Linked DNA regions of Homo sapiens: region 2 is linked to region 1. Evidence: fine-mapped expression QTL. A gene starts in region 1. The other region holds a variant in brackets. All regions are shown on one strand. Distances are from middle to middle.

Region 1 (8,372 bases):
GACTCAAACTATGTGTCCCATTGAGCTTCACTAGCCATTAATCATGTGACTTTCACAAAGTCACCTAATCTGAGCCTCAATTTTCTCATCTATTGTGAGAATTAAGAGGGATAATGTACTTGGCACATGGCAAACACTCAATAAATGCTAACAGGCCAGGCACGGTGGCTCATGCCTGTAACCTAGCACTTTGGGAGGCCGAGGTGGGCAGATCACTTGAGGTCAGGAGTTCGAGACCAGCCTGGCCAACATGGCGAAACCCCATCTCTACTAAAAATACAAAAATTAGCCAGGAGTGGTGGCGTGCTTCTGTAATCCCAGCTACTCAGGAAGCTGAGGCACAAAAATCGCTTGAACCCAGAGGCAAAGGTTGCAGTGAGTGGAGATCACGCCACTGCACTGCAGCCTGGGCGATGGAGCAAGACCCTGCCTCAAAAAAAAAAAAAAAAAGCTAACAGATTACATTATTAGGAATATTACTAATATACTGTCATAGTTTTAAAGTACAAAAAAGGAATAGAAGATACAAAATTTAATAATTTTATGTTCTTCCTAATGTATAAATTCTTCCATTTTTATAACATCTAATTTTTGTGGATAGAGTTCCCAGACCCTCTTCCCTAGATGATGGGTCCCATGCACCCTCAGGGCACTTTGAACAGCTCCTTCATGGCAATAATTAATTAATTAGGCAGGTAGGTAATTTCCGGTTTATGTCTGTCTTCCTCAGGAGAATCTAAGCTCCAAGATGACAAAGATGGTGTCAGATATGCCCAATATCTAGCACAAGGCCTGGCACTTTGATGATTAACAAATATTTATGGAATGGATGAACAAGAAATGAAATAAACAAAAGCATTTTAACATGTACATTCTGAAATAGTATAGTCATGATATTAAAAGTAAGTATTATTTCCTCCATCTCTCTGAGAAGCGAGGAAGTGCCCATCTTGTAAGCTAAGAAGACAGTAAACATTCAGATTCTGGGGAGCTATTTTTGGCAGCTCTTCCTTAGGAGAATCACACTGCCTGAACCTGTCCCCAGGAATCCTTTCAGTTACAGCAGAGCTCTGGAAACCCAGTACTTTTCCAGAACCTCCTATTCAGTAAAAGGAAAAGTACTCAGTCTCTCTAGATTATCTTCACACAGTGTACATTAGCCCTTACTCACTGACTCATGAAAGGGTAGGGAGCTTAAAACTGTCATTTCACGAATGAGGAAATGAGCCCAGAAAAGTAGATTGATTTTCCAAGCCTAACATTTGTTAATAATAGAGCTGGTGCAATTGGGAATAGGCTCATTCTTACAGTTCTCTCTCTTTCTCAATACATATGTAATACATATATATTTGATTTATTTAAATGACATTTATGAATGATTTTTATTACATTGGGGAAAAAGCCCTTGATGTGTTAAGTAGCAGGAGCTGACTAGAATTATGTATAATACATATTTAATTATAAAATATGTAACTATATGGAGAGCACGTGTGTGTGTGTGTGTGTGCATGTATTTCTCCATTACTTATCTATGTAGAAAATGTAAAAAGTAGTATAAAAAATGTTAACAGTGTTTATCTCTAGTTGGTGGGTCATGGTGTATTTTTATTTATGTTCTTCTGCATTAAAATTTTTGTTAATAAGCATGTAATACTTTATAACCAGAAATTTCAGTTTTTTAATTCCTGCTCTAATATTTTTTAAACATTTTATTTCCGTCAGCTCTACCAGATAAAGGAAGCATCAAGCTAGGGTCCAAAGAAGTTTTACCAGTCATTTAACCTGATCTGTAAAATGGGTATAATTATACCTACTTCCCAGGGCTCTTGTGTATATGGAATAATAAATAAGAAATTCCTTCATAACTTTAAAGCTTGTTAAAGATGTTACGTGGTATTGTAATGATGATAATGTTCTGTGGTCTAAAAGAGCTGGGAAAGCCCTTAGGATAGCGGGTATCTTTGTGCTGAGGAGTTTAGGTTGGGAAGGGAAAGAAGTCTAAGTGTCAGGAGAGAAGTAAGCGCTTTTTTGCACTTAAGAAAAACAATCAGCTGGGCGGGTGGCTCACGCCTGTAATCCCAGCACTTTGGGAGGCCGAGGCAGGTGGATCACCTGAAGTCAGGAGTTTGAGACCAGCCTGGCCAACATGGTGAAACCCCATCTCTACTAAAAACACAAAAATTTGCCAGGTGTGGTGGCACACTCTTGTAATCCCAGCTACTTGGGAGGCTGAGACAGGAGGATTGCTTGAACCCAGGAGGTGGAGGTTGCAGTGAGCCAAGATCGCGTCACTGCACTCCGGCCTGGGTGACAGAGCATGACTCCGTCTCAATAAAAAAAAAAAAAGAAAGAAAGAAAGGAAGAAAAACAATCATATGGTTGACCCCAGTTCTCTCCTTCCCTTATACTTCGAATAAATGCCTCAATGTTCCCTCATAAGATTAAACCTCCCTTCTGTCTCTTAAGTAGCCCATGCAAAAAGCAGCTTATAGTGGACAGGATCTAGTGTATTCTGAGACAATGGCATGTCACAAATGCCACGGAAAATGAGATTTCACACATAGGGATGATTTTACACTAAACCCAGGTGCCAAGGGTGGTATGTAAAATAACTCTTCCTTTTTAATTTATTAATTATTTTTAGAGACAAGGTTTCATGCTGTTGCCCAGGCTGGAGTGCAGTGATGCGATTATAGCTCACTGCAGCTTCGAATTCCTGGGCTCAAGTGATCCTCTTGCTGCAGCCTCCCAAGTAGATGAAACTACAGGCATGTGTCGCCATGCCTGGCTAATTTTTTTTAATTTTTAATTTTTTAGAGACAGGGCCTCCCTACATTGTTCCGGCTGGTCTCTAACTCCTGGCCTCAAGAGATCCTCCCACTTCAGCCTACCAAGTAGTTAGGATTACTATATTTTAAAATGTAATACAGACTTATGATAAATTTACCCAAGAGAAATAAAAATTTATGTTCTCACAAAAACCATCACACAAATGTTCATAGCCACTTTATTAATAATTGCTAAAAACTGGAAATAACTTAAATATCCTTTATTGAATGGATAAACAAACAGTGACACATCCATATAATGGAATGCTACTCAGCCATACAAAAGGATGAACTACTGAAAATCACAACAACATAGATGAATCGTAAATGCATTATGCTAACTTAGTAAAGGAAGGGAGAACCCAAAAGGCTACAGACTGTATTCTCCATTTATATGATAATCCGGAAAAGAAAACTATAGGGGAGAACAGATCAGTAGTTCCCAGAGGATAAGACGAAGGGAGGGGTTGACTACATACAATAGGACGGTAAGAGAATTTGGGGGGTGGTGGTGATGGAATTACTTTTTATTGTGATGTTTACATGTATATGCATTTGTCAACATTCATAGAACAGTACACCAAAAAGTGAATTTTACTATATAAAGTTTAAAAATAAATGCATAAAAATAATATAGTCGAGTAAATTCAAACAATATAAGGAATTTAATAAGAAAGTCTCCCTCCCAGATCTTGGTGATAATAGATCTGTATTTTGAGTGCAGTGATGGTCACATACATCCATACATGTGATAAAATGATAGAGAACTATATACACACATTACACCAATATCAACTTCCTGCTTTTGATATTGTACTATAATTAAGATGTAACCCGCCAGGCACGGTGGCTCATGCCTGTAATCCCAGCACTTTGCGAGGCCGAGGCAGGCGGATCACCTGAGGTCAGGAGTTCGAGACCAGCCTGGCCAACGTGGTGAAACCCCGTCTCTACCAAAAAAAAAAAAAAAAAAAATTAGCCGGGCGTGATGGCGGGCGCCTGTAATCCCAGCTACTCAGGAGGCTGAGGTAGGAGAATCGCTTGAACCTGGAAAGCGGAGGTTGCAGTCAGCCGAGATCGCGCCATTGCACGTCAGCCTGGGTGACAAGAGCGAAACTCCGTCTCAAAATAAATAAATTAATTAAAAGATGTAAACGGCGGGTCGCGGTGGCTCACGCCTGTAATCCCAGCACCCTGGGAGGCCGAGGCAGATGGATCATTTGAAGTCAGGGATTCGAGACCAGCTTGGCCAACATGGTGAGACCCCATCTCTACTAAAAATATAAAAATTAGCTGGGCGCGGTGGCGCACGCCTGTAATCCCAGCTACTCAGGAGGCTGAGGTAGGAGAATCGCTTGAACCCGGGAGGTGGAGGTTGCAGTGAGCCAAAATTGTGCCACTGCACTCCACCCTGGGCGACAGAGCAAGACTCCATCTCAAAATAAATAAATAAATAAATAAATCTCATATAAGTGTGTGTGTGTGTACAAATTTATACATAAATACTTTTAACACAAATGGTAGCATATTATACTTGCTGTTCTGCACCTTACTTTGTTTCTACAATTACTTTGGAGATTTTTTTCCGTATCACATATACAACAGATCCACCGCATTATTTTTTATTGCCGCATAGTATTCCATTGCACAGTGGTTTCACTTATTTCAACAGTTTCTTATTGATGGACATTCGGATCTTAACTAAGAATTGAACTTAAATAATCCAGAAATGTTTACAATAATGAAAGGTCGGCTGGAGTTGAGGCTAAAAGTTTTCACATATTCAAGACTTGACTCCAGAATATTCTTTTGACCAGAAGGGGGAATGCAAGTGGCAGGAGAAGCGAAAAGCTGGGAAATTTCCCGGGCCAATGGGGAAGCAGTGGAGCCGGCAGGGAATTACTGCCGGGTAGGAGTTCGCAGAGGAGCACCTTACTTTTGGAGTAGGAGGCCATGCTGCAAACCCAGACTTTTCAGGCTGCATCTCAGATATACCGAAGTGTGTACCCGCTACGCACAGTGCGGTGATGCCTGGCCACCTCCAGCCTCCAGCGGGGACCTCCTGCCCAGGTGGAGTCTGAATGCCCACCGCCACCAGCCCACGCGCGCAGTGGGCGTACACGTGGTGACCTGCCTGCGGCTGGGTTCCCAGCTCCGGCTCCTCCTCCCTCCAGCTCTCGCTCGGCTTCCTGCAGTATCACGTGCAGCTGCGCTGGGTGCAGGATGGCGGCGGCCGCGGCGGCGGCAGCAGCGGTGGGTGTCAGGCTCCGGGACTGCTGCAGCCGAGGCGCTGTGCTCCTGCTCTTCTTTTCCCTGTCTCCTCGGCCCCCGGCCGCCGCCGCCTGGCTGCTGGGCCTGCGGCCCGAGGACACTGCTGGAGGCCGCGTGTCCCTGGAGGGGGGCACCCTGCGCGCCGCCGAAGGCACCAGCTTCCTCCTGCGTGTCTATTTCCAGCCAGGACCGCCGGCCACCGCCGCACCGGTGCCCTCACCGACCCTCAACTCGGGGGAGAATGGCACCGGCGACTGGGCTCCGCGGCTCGTGTTCATCGAGGAGCCCCCGGGCGGTGGCGGCGTGGCCCCCAGCGCGGTCCCCACTCGCCCCCCGGGACCGCAGCGCTGCAGGGAGCAGAGCGACTGGGCATCGGACGTGGAAGTCCTGGGGCCCTTGCGTCCCGGGGGCGTGGCAGGCTCGGCCCTGGTCCAGGTGCGAGTGCGGGAGCTGCGCAAGGGCGAAGCGGAGCGGGGCGGCGCGGGCGGTGGCGGGAAGCTCTTTTCACTCTGCGCCTGGGATGGGCGCGCGTGGCACCACCACGGCGCCGCCGGCGGCTTCCTGCTGCGCGTTCGCCCGCGGTTGTACGGCCCAGGCGGGGACCTGCTGCCCCCTGCGTGGCTGCGGGCGCTCGGGGCGCTCCTGCTGCTAGCCTTGTCGGCCCTGTTCAGCGGCCTGCGCCTGAGCCTGCTGTCGCTGGACCCGGTGGAGTTACGGGTGCTGCGGAACAGCGGCTCGGCCGCCGAGCAGGAGCAGGCGCGCCGCGTGCAGGCCGTTCGCGGCAGGGGGACCCATCTGCTCTGCACCCTACTCCTGGGCCAAGCCGGAGCCAACGCGGCCCTGGCTGGCTGGCTGTACACCTCGCTGCCGCCGGGCTTCGGGGGCACCGGGGAAGACTACAGCGAAGAGGGGATCCACTTCCCGTGGCTGCCGGCGCTCGTGTGCACCGGCGCGGTATTCCTGGGCGCCGAAATCTGCCCCTACTCAGTGTGTTCGCGGCACGGGCTGGCCATCGCCTCGCACAGCGTGTGCCTGACCCGGCTTCTGATGGCAGCCGCCTTCCCCGTGTGCTACCCGCTGGGCCGCCTGCTGGACTGGGCGCTGCGCCAGGAGATAAGCACCTTCTACACGCGGGAGAAGTTGCTGGAGACGTTGCGGGCCGCAGACCCCTACAGTGACCTGGTGAAGGAGGAGCTCAACATCATACAGGGTGCCCTGGAGCTGCGCACCAAAGTTGTGGAGGAGGTGCTGACCCCCCTGGGAGACTGCTTCATGCTGCGCTCAGACGCGGTGCTCGACTTCGCCACTGTCTCCGAGATCCTGCGCAGCGGCTACACTCGCATCCCAGTGTACGAGGGTGACCAGCGGCACAACATTGTGGACATTTTATTTGTCAAGGACTTGGCCTTCGTGGACCCCGACGACTGCACCCCGCTCCTCACTGTCACCCGCTTCTACAACCGGCCCCTGCATTGTGTTTTCAATGACACCCGACTGGACACGGTTCTGGAGGAGTTTAAGAAGGGTGAGCAGTAGTCTATCTTCTCCCCCAACTCCTATCCCCTTCAAAGGTATTATCCTTTCCTAACCACGTGAGGCTCTAGGTACCCAAAGCAATTTCTCTCCTATGGTACTAAAAACCCAAGGAAGACTCTACCTCTTGGCTCCCTGGCTATTTTCATCTCACTTCTGCCTCACTTCTTGCTCCTGATTGAGCCCCAGGCCTCTTTCCTCTCTACTTGATTCACAAGATGCACCATATTCCTTATTTGTTCCATTCTACCAGGTTTTTCCAAGGCCTACCAAATGTCAGATACTGTGTAGGTGGGAGATAGCCCTTGAAGGTCATTGCATAGCTCCCCACCTATTACAGGAGACACCTCTGCAGGTTCCCATACAAGCAGCCTTTGCTTTAAACTCCTCCCAGGGCCGAAAGCTCACTATTTACAGAGCAAACTAATTCCATTGCTGGACAGCTCCAGTGGCTGACAATGTTTCCTCATATAGAGCAGAATTTGTGTCTCCAAATCCTTCTACCTCTTCTGCCTTTTGAATCATGTAGACTAAACCCAGACACCTTAGACGTTCTTCCCCATACTTAATTTCCCATCAGGTATTGATTGCACACATATCAAGTACTCAGGTCCAGGGCCGGGCGCGGCGGCTCATGCTTCTAATCCCAGCACTTTGGGAAGCTGAGGCGGGAGGATTACTCGAGCCCAGGAGTTCAAAGCTGCAATGAGCTGTAATCCCACCACTGTACAAAAGAGCAAGACCCTGTCTTTGCCCGGGGGGGAGGGAAGTACTCAGGTTGGGGGTTAAAAGTTGACTAAGGCAGTAGGATCCTTGTAAGTCTGGGAACTGTGGTCCTGTGAAATAGGATAGATCTGGACCTGAAGAAATATTCTGGGTAGAGGAGATCCTAGAAAACTTGCATACCCAAATGAGTGGGGTTTCCTTCAGCGCAGTCACCATCTTCCAACTCTCCTCCCCAAACTCAAGCTTGATGTCATGCTTATAACATGTTTACTTCATGTCTGAGTTTGTCTTCAGAAAGTGCCTTCTGGTGACTACAAATTCACTCAAGAAAAATCAGCCTGGATACATTAGAGTCACCCCTCTTGGCATTACACAGTTTGACCGCCCCCCTAGTTCACCAGATTTGGCCCAGAACCCTTGATTGTTTTTTAAAATCAAATCTACTTTCAAGAGTCAACACTGAGAGCATTCAAAAGACTATCTCACAAACCCTGAAAGCAACACCAGACATCATAATTTGAAAACAGGGACATAATTAGAATAAGTGTAGAACTTCCCAGAATGACTCCTTTGAAGGAGGCATTCATCTGATATGAGTTGGAATGTTTATTAAAAACAAAAACCAAAAAAATCAATCCCTTGACTTCAGATTCAGCCTTCAGATATAGCTTCCTAATGGCTAGCAGTACTCTCATTTAACTGCATTTTGTATAAATTTTTTGTCAAAAATTTAATGTCATGATAATTTGAGCCCGAGGCTGCAGTGAGCTATGACTGTGCCACTGAACTCTAGCCTGGGTAACAGAGCAAGACCCTGTCTCAAAAAAGAAAGAAAGAGAGAGAGAGGAAGGGAAGGAGGGAGGGAGGGAGGGAAGGGAAAATTCAATCTCACTACTTTAACATCATAAATAATCTTTAGAACTTTGAATACAAACAAATCTGGGGTCTTTTTCCTGCCACAATTTTTGAAATCATATTAAATATTAAAATGTAGCCTGGAAGGGGGGAAAAAGG
Region 2 (8,372 bases), 130 kb after region 1:
TCTCACTCTGATTTTAACACTACTTTCAAGAACTCATGCTCCTATGGGTCCTTTCTCACCGTGTCATCTGTGATCCAACCTGCTTTAACCTGTCTGTTCTCTTACCTGTCTGAACCTGCAGATGCCCACACTGAGGGATTCTCAGCCCTGGAATCCTCCATGTCTTCCCCTCACTTCACCAATCTATCCAGGACCCTGACTGCATCAAGCCTTTGTAGCAATGGCAATGTTACCCCAAACTGACTGCAGATGCCTGTGACCTTTGGGATTCCCACCTGTGCTACTTGTCCTGTTCTTAAATTAAATAAATGACCAAGTCAGGGATCATATGCCATCTTCAAGACAGGAAGTCCTGCTCTCCGGCATCTTGTCCCCTGATCCTAGGCATGGTGTCACTTTCTGCCCATAGGAACAGTCTAATAAAAAACTTCACTTGGACTCTATACTAATTTACAATTAAAATTACTAGCTTTGTGAGAGTATGCAAAGTATTCATGAACTAGGATTTGGGGATAGAAGAGGCAGAAATGTTTTCCCATAATAATGACTAATATAGCCATCGCAAATGATATTATCTTTTTTTACTTAATCCAACAATACTTTTTCAACCCAACTTGAAGATTATAATTATCTGAAAAGAAGGATATTAATTATAATTCAGACTTTTTTATACCAACTTCCCCATTCTTCCAGTCACCCCGCCCTACCTTCCCCATGCCCTCCAGGCATCCAAAATTGTGGAATCAGCATGTATAGGGCTGGGTACCCTGTGAATACTCAGTAAATATTAACTGTCTAAATGAATTAATCTATTCGCCTCTGGTATAAGTACTTTTGCTGTCTCTCAAATTCAAATCATTTCCTCTCCTTTTACTAACACAGGCATTCATGCATTTAATTCAAAAGCAGTTATTTACTTAGGGTTATTATGGCCTCCACAAATGCAGAGTCTGGTAATGGTGCAAGGCAGTATGAGAACAAGTGCTCAGATGAGGGCCGCAGCAATGGGGAAATAGAAAGAACGTGGGCCTTGACCTCAGCCGACCTACCTTAATTGTAAAAGTGGAGTATTGACACCCAGTTCCCAGGGTCGTTAATAACATTGAATGTTTTGGGGTTTTTTTGAGCACTGTGTGTACAAACCTCTTCAATTCTCCCTGAGCCCCTACATGGGGAAAGTGGGACTTTAAAGGGCTGAACAGTTTGCCTACCTTGAAGTCTCACTGCTAGCAGTGGGCAGTGCTGGAATTTGAACACACTCTTAACTCTTCTTTACAATATCTTCTTTGTGGGAGTGGTCTTGAGAATTAAACTCCTGTCAAGTTCCTCTCAGTATGTCAGTTTCCTCATCCCCTTGTCAGGAGAGGAGGACACTAAGTTCCACGTGTGGAAATTGGTCATGTAACCTTAACCCTGGAGAAATGTGAACGTTATCTCCTGAGGGGCAGCGGTCCACCGGCCACTCAGACCTATTGTTGCCCCAGGAAGGAAGAAAGAATTGGGATTCTGCTTCCCCTTGAGGGGACTGAGAAGTAAAACTGCAGCTAAATCAGTGGACTTTGGGGACTTGTGGGGAAGAGTGGGAAGGCAGTGAGGGATAAAAGACAAGAAATATGGTGCAGTATATACTGCTTGGGTGATGGGTGCACCAGGATCTCACAAATCACCACTAAAGAATGTCTCATGTAACCAAATACCACGTGTATTCCAATAACTTATGGGAAAAAAAAAAACTCTTAGCCACTCTGGAAGGACTGCAGTTAAATTACAAAGAGAAGCAGTACATCCACTGTCAGTACATCTACTCGGATGCTTTTGTCTTTTCTGGTTGCAGCTTGGTCTTGTCTTCTTTCTTAGAAAATGTTCCTTTACTTGTGAAAAGTGCTATCCTTGTTTCTGCTGAACACAGAGAATAAGGGGGTTTGTCTACACCCATGTTGGCTCCAAGAGAGGATCAAAGTGTCCTTTGGTTTAGATGTGGTGACAGCAGCTGGAGAACTAGGGGAACCTGGAGGAACTGGGCAGATGGAGGGAGGATAAGGTGGGAGGCAATTCTAAAGCCAGGATAACCATCTCTTACTACAGGGGATTCTACTACCAGCTCTTCCCAGCAGGCTTTTTCACTCCCCTGCAAAGGCAGACAGTGCCCCAGGAGGTCAGAGATGGAGCTATCCTAATGCCTTGATAGGAGGCAAAGACTGGATGGAGGCAGTGGAGTATAAAAAGAAAGATCTGGCCGGGTGCGGTGGCTCACACCTGTAATCCCAGCACTTTGGGAGGCCAAGGCGGGCGGATTACAAAGTCAGGAGTTCAAGACCAGCCTGACCAATATGGTGAAACCCCATCTCTACTAAAAAAATACAAAAATTAGCGGGGCATGGTGGCACGCGCCTGTAGTCCCAGCTACTTGGGAGGCTGAGACAGGAGAATCACTTGAACCCGGGAGGCAGAGGTTGCAGTGAGCTGAGATTTCGCCACTGCACTCCAGTCTGGGCAACAGAGCAAAACTCTGTCTCAAAAACAAACAGACAAAACAAAACAAAAAAAAAAAAACAACCTTATCAAGCTTCAGGGCCAAGGATACCAGCTGTGAGATTTGAACAAGTTACTCAACCTTGCTGAGTGTCCTGGTGTATAATGACAATGAGACACACACCTCACAGGGAAGCTGTGACAAGCTAATGAAGTCATGTTTATAAGGGACCTGGCAAAGTAGGTGACAGTTGAGCACCTGGCGAAGGATGTGACACTCAGGCTGCAGCCACAATACATGGGAGAATTTGGCTTTTGCTATATCTTACCCAAAACTTGGCTGGGTTGTTCTGATCCTCCCAAGAAAATGTATAATGACAGTAACTCTAATAGCCACTAAAGTTAGTCAATTTTGGGAAAAGAAAAAGGAGAAAAATGAGCTGCAAAACAATTCCACTATCAGAGAGGGCAAAAATGGAAAGGAAAATTTTAGAAGAAAAGTAATACATAGTAAATCTAGAAAATAATCTAGAGTACCTCACTAGAAGGTCTAAATTTAACCTTAAAAAAGAAATCTTGGTGCCTGGGGTGGAAAAACAAATCATCTTTTTTGCTGACTGTACAAGTAAGATGATTAAAGTAGCAATAGAAAAGAGCTTTTAAAAAAATGATGGTAAAAGGTAAAAATGGAAATCCCACACGTGACTCCTAATTTTAAAACAATTATAGTAAAATATTTATCACATAAGTTTACTGTCTTAACCACTTTTACATGTAGGGTTCAGTGGCGTTAAGTACATTCACAATGCTGTGCAACCATCACCACCATCCATCTCCAGAACGCCTTTCATCTTGCAAAACTGAAACCTCTGTATCCATTAAACACTAACTCCCCATTCCTACCTTCCCCTACTCCCTGACAACCACCATTCTACTTTCTGTCTCTATGAATTTGACTACCCTATGTACCTCATATAAGTGGAAGCACACAGTATTTGTCTTTTTGTGACTGACTTATTTCACTTAGCATAATGGACTCCCAGCTTGTTAACTAGATATATTCCAAAGTCATTTACAATGTGATGTATGGATATAAGTCATAGTAAATGTTTTTTCTTTTTTCTTTTTTTTTTTTTTTTGAGATGGAGTCTCGCTCTGTCGCCTGGGCTGGAGTGCAGTGGCGCCATCTTGGCTCATTGCAATTTCCACTTCTCGGGTTCAAGCAATGCTCCTGCTTCAGCCTCCCGAGTAGCTGGGACTACAGGCATGCACCACCACGTCCAGCTAAATTTTTGCATTTTTAGTAGAGACGGGGTTTCACCATGTTGCCCAGGCTGGTCTTAAACTCCTGACCTCAGGCGAATGTTTTAAGTAAAGAGAAAATTCAGATCCTACCAGGCTGGCTTGAACCAATGCCAATTTCCATAATGAAAATGGCTCTCCCCAGATGTAGAAGAGGAAGTGCATACAGATGCAATGTGATCCCAGTGAAACCCCAAATGCAGC[T/C]TCTGGGGCCACAGACTTCTGCCTCTCTCTTGAATTTCTTTGTGTTGCCACAACGTAAGAGTTCAGAGAGGTGTTGACAGCATTTCCCTTTATGCTTTCCGTAGGGTCCATATCATTATTACCCCTTCCCTGGACATTCACAATAACTCCTAATACACAGGCAGGATATAAGTTAGACTACTTATATTTACTGAGAACTTACCATGCACCAGACACAGTCAACTTTTTAAAGTGGACAATTTTAAAGAGAAAACTGTAATGGGCAACATAATCATCTCCTACCATCTCTGTTCCTTTCTTTCTCAGATTATGAAGTAGCTATGGAATTTGAATGGGTTGATTCTTCAGCTCCCAGAAAAAAACTTTGATTGGTTTAACTGGCCACAGTAATTGATGTGGGAATGAGGCCCTGACATAATTTCAACTTAGAAGACATGTTCACTGGAAGTGAACTAGGAAGCATGAAGTCTCAGACATTCGACACTGAAAGAATAAGCAGTCTTAGGATGAAGGCAGTGCTATGGACACCAGAACTCCATGGTTCAGGCTGTTCAGCATCAACTGTTCCTGACAGCCACCCTAACGTGCCTCCAGTTTCCTGGGCCAACAGATGCCTGTCATTGTTGAAGTTTCTTTGAGTTGGGTCTTCCGTTACTTACAATTTAAATCACCCTCACTGATTACTATGTACTTAATTGTTCTCCTCCACTCTCTGCCAATCCATATGCTGAAGCCTTAACCCCCAACGTGATAGTATTTGGAGACTGGAACTTTGGGAGATAATTAGATTTAGATGTGGTCATGAGGATGGGACCTTCAAGATGAGAATAGTATCCTTATAAAAAGTGGTACTAGAAAGCCTCTCTTTCTCTCTCTCTGCCACGTAAGAACACAGCAAGAAGGCAGCCATCTGCAAGCCAGGAAGAGAGCCCTTACCAGAACTTGACCATGCTGACACCCTGATCTCAGATGTGCAGCCTCCAGAACTGCAAAAAAGACACATTTTCATTGTTTAAGCTACCTAGTTTATGGTATTTTGTTACAGCAGCCCAATCTGACTAATACGCTGATACAGGCATATTAGGGTACATGCCACCAGCAGAGTGGTTCAACTGCAGGTCCACACTTACCCAGTGAAGGTGACTCAGCCTAGAGTGTGACTCAGTCTCTTCCCAACCCTGTCCGCATCACCCCTGGAAGAGTCAGCTCCTCCCACAACTGCAGTCCTGACAGCAGCATCATGCCTCTGAAATGATCTTGCAAACAAGCTGTCATTGGAGTGCTGAGAGAGTGGCAATATCAACTAAAAACATGAAGAAGAAGAGCAACAAAGAGGAGGAAGAGGAGGAGAAGAGGGAAAGAAGTGAGGCGCTGTGGTGAAGAATAGTACTTCTCATCTCCACCAGAACAGCAGAGAACAATGAAAGCACACCATCAGGACGTCTCAGGGTACAGCCAGAAAAGCCATTACCATTTGTGCCAATATCTTTGAAATCTTGTATTTTGTCATAAAAAGTTATGCAGTTTCTGTATTCTACTTCATCATGTGCCTTTATATTTTTTATATCAAAATGTCTCCCTAAAAACCTTTGAGAAGGGCCATTTTATCTCAAATCTTTGAAATAATTTCCTAGTCCCACCATGCTTGCCCTGAGATGTTCACACCCCAATATGAGAAGCACATGTACATCAGAAAGAGGACTGGACTTAGAGTTTTAAATCTAAGTTCTTTTCCAATACCATGCTTTCCTAGTCTTGATCTTGAAAAATCACTCATCATCTTTAAGCTTCTCTTTCGTCATGAGTGAAAGAAAGGATGACACCAACACCTTCTCTCCCTTTCTCATAGAAGCATCAAGCTCCAAGTAGTTAATGTGAGAAAAAGGACTTGGGAGAACAGGAAGCTCTGGCCTTTTTGTTGTGTAGGGTATTTTCCCAAGAATACTTTGGAAGTTTCCTTTAATTTGTTCTTGGACTAACCTTTCCTATTCACTCTGATACCTTTTTGTTCAACCCTTGTATCTGTGCATGGAAGAGCACAGGAGGCAAAAAGAATAAGGATTTATAGTCACTTGTCAATAGGCGTGGAAGAGAAGTCAGATTCTTATTTATTTGAGATAAAGTCTAGCTCTGTTGCCAGGATGGAGTGCAGTGGTGTGATTTCTGCTCACTGCAACTTCCACCTCCTGGGTTCAAGTGATTCTCCTGCCTTAGCCTCCCTAGTAGCTGAGATTACAGGTGTGTACCACCACTCTCGGCTGATTTTTGTATTTTTAGTAGAGATGGGGTTTCACCATGTTGACCAAGCTGGTCTCGAACTCGTGACCTCAAATGATCCACCTACCTCGGCCTCCTAAAATGCTAGGATTACAGGCATGAGCCACCGTGCTTGGCCAGATTCTTATTCTTGAGGTGACCTCTATATCCCTTCGTTCCCTTCATGTCTGTATCTTCCACCCTTATCATGGCATCTCAAGTTTCCCTACTTAAGAGAATCTGAGCCTGTATCCCTCATACTTGCCTTATGGACAAATCACCTGGGATACAGGAAGGCAAGTGACTTCCATCTGCAGTAACAGCTCTGGTTCATTGGTTGCTTAGAACATTACATTGAGAAGAATCACTCAATGGGAAAGAATATAGATGGGTTGGAGATGTCTGCACAGACAGGGAAGTGAGAACAGCCACATTTGTGGCATCACTAGCTGTCCTTGGTTGACAGGCTCAAGATGAGTCAACTCAGAAAAGTGTTGGACGGGCACGGTGGCTCAGGCCTGTAATCCCAGCACTTTGGGAGGCCAAGGAGAGCAGATCACTTGAGGTCAGGAGTTCGAGACCAGCCTGGCCAACATGGTGAAATCCTATCTCTACTAAAAATACAAAAATTAGCTGCGCGTGATGGCAACCTATAATCCCAGCTACTTGGGAGGCTGAGGCAGGAGAATCGTATGAACCTGGGAGGTGGAGGTCGCAGTGAGCCAAGATCGTGCCACTGCAGTATTCCAGCCTGGGGAACAGAGTGAGACTCCGTCTTAAATTAAAAAAAAAAAAAAAAAAAAGTCACAATTATTGAAAGCTGGAAGGTTTTCAGAAAAATCTCAAATGTAGGCGTTTCCATCCTTGGGGTCTTGACTCGTGAGGCATTTACAAACTTAGTAATAATGACTTATATCTTATTTTTGATAATATGAAGGCCCAACTCCTTCCCTATGATAGGGTTGTCAAGGTTCTTTCCTTTTGAGCAGAACAGTATCTACTCCATTCACTAATGGCGTATCATGCTAGTCGCTATGATTGACATTTGTTGAAGTCACAGAAATTTCCGGAATGTTATTGGTCCACCTGACAGTCCAGGATGCCAATTGAACCCATGAGCAATTGTGGACTTGAATACACAGTGATGACCTAAGATAAGTGACTGCTTGAAGAGAACAATGGTAATAAAGAGACTCCTGGTGATTAAGAGCCTGGGAATCAATGTTCTAATGAAATATGACATCAATCTTAATGTAACTGCTTCAAATCCTACCCAGTAATTCTGAAATTTTTAGGGGCTTCAGATTTGGATGAACACACCATGAGTTTATTTCAAAATGCCTATTTCTATTTCAGTATGCAATTACTTGAGACTTTTTTGAAAAAAATAACAAACAGCTTCTATTAAATAATTGTCTTTTTGTTGCAGAATTCTAAAGGGTTTATGGACTGTGTACATACACTGCATTTAAGCTTTTCATTTATTTGACTACTTTGGTGTTTTCAGTTTGCCGGAAAGCAGGCCCTCATAGATGAAAGGCCCAGCTGGTGTCCAAAAGCCATCGATTTGCCTTGTCGGCTCTTTAGGCAACCAGGCTTTCTAAGTGGGTAGGCCCATAGGGTGTTTGTTTCATTTTGGTCATGTCCTACTGTGCTTCAACATAAAGCTACACAACAACCATAAAAGACATAATGATTACATATTTTTGGAATTTCTTTCTATTTTTCCAGGGTTTCTTTAGGACCTACCATTTCTTTTTTTTTTTTTTTTTTAGATGGAATCTCACTCTGTCACCCAGGCTGGAGTGTAGTGGCATGATCTTGGCTCACTGCAACCTCTGCCTCTCGGGTTCAAGCAATTATCTTGCCTCAGCCTCCTGAGTATCTGGGACTACAGGAGTGCCAACCCTCGTCCAGCTAATTTTTGTATTTTTAGTAGAGACAGAGATTCACCACGTTGGCCAGGCTTGTCTTGCTCCTGACCTTAGGTGATCCACACACCTCCACCTCCCAAGTGCTGGGAATACAGGCGTGAGCCACCATGCCCAGCCGGGCCTACCATTTATTTCTATCTGAGTTTCCCTTGCCAGTGAACTCTTGCATTTTAAGTAATAGCCATTGAGGAAAAAGCTGTCAAA

Alleles and levels. Alleles are on the strand shown, and positions count from the first base shown. SD is a standard deviation of normalised expression in the study named.
For the expression in nucleus accumbens of the gene that starts at base 5,020 in region 1, T is the high allele of the variant in region 2 and C is the other (small effect, 0.30 SD a copy in GTEx).

What was found.
Region 2: its variant is fine-mapped to the expression of CNNM1 in nucleus accumbens (GTEx, PIP 0.97).

What each region holds. Positions count from the first base shown.
Region 1 is chr10:99,324,337-99,332,708 of GRCh38, forward strand. CNNM1 (cyclin and CBS domain divalent metal cation transport mediator 1) reads left to right here and starts at 5,020. Exons shown (of 11, transcript NM_020348.3): 1 at 5,020-6,624. The coding sequence starts at 5,052.
Region 2 is chr10:99,456,325-99,464,696 of GRCh38, forward strand. GOT1-DT (GOT1 divergent transcript) reads left to right here. Exons shown (of 5, transcript NR_183993.1): 5 at 4,285-5,509. Among named protein-coding and RNA genes, the nearest start is that of GOT1-DT, 30 kb to the left of the region's middle. The variant T/C (reference allele first, on the strand shown) is at 3,979.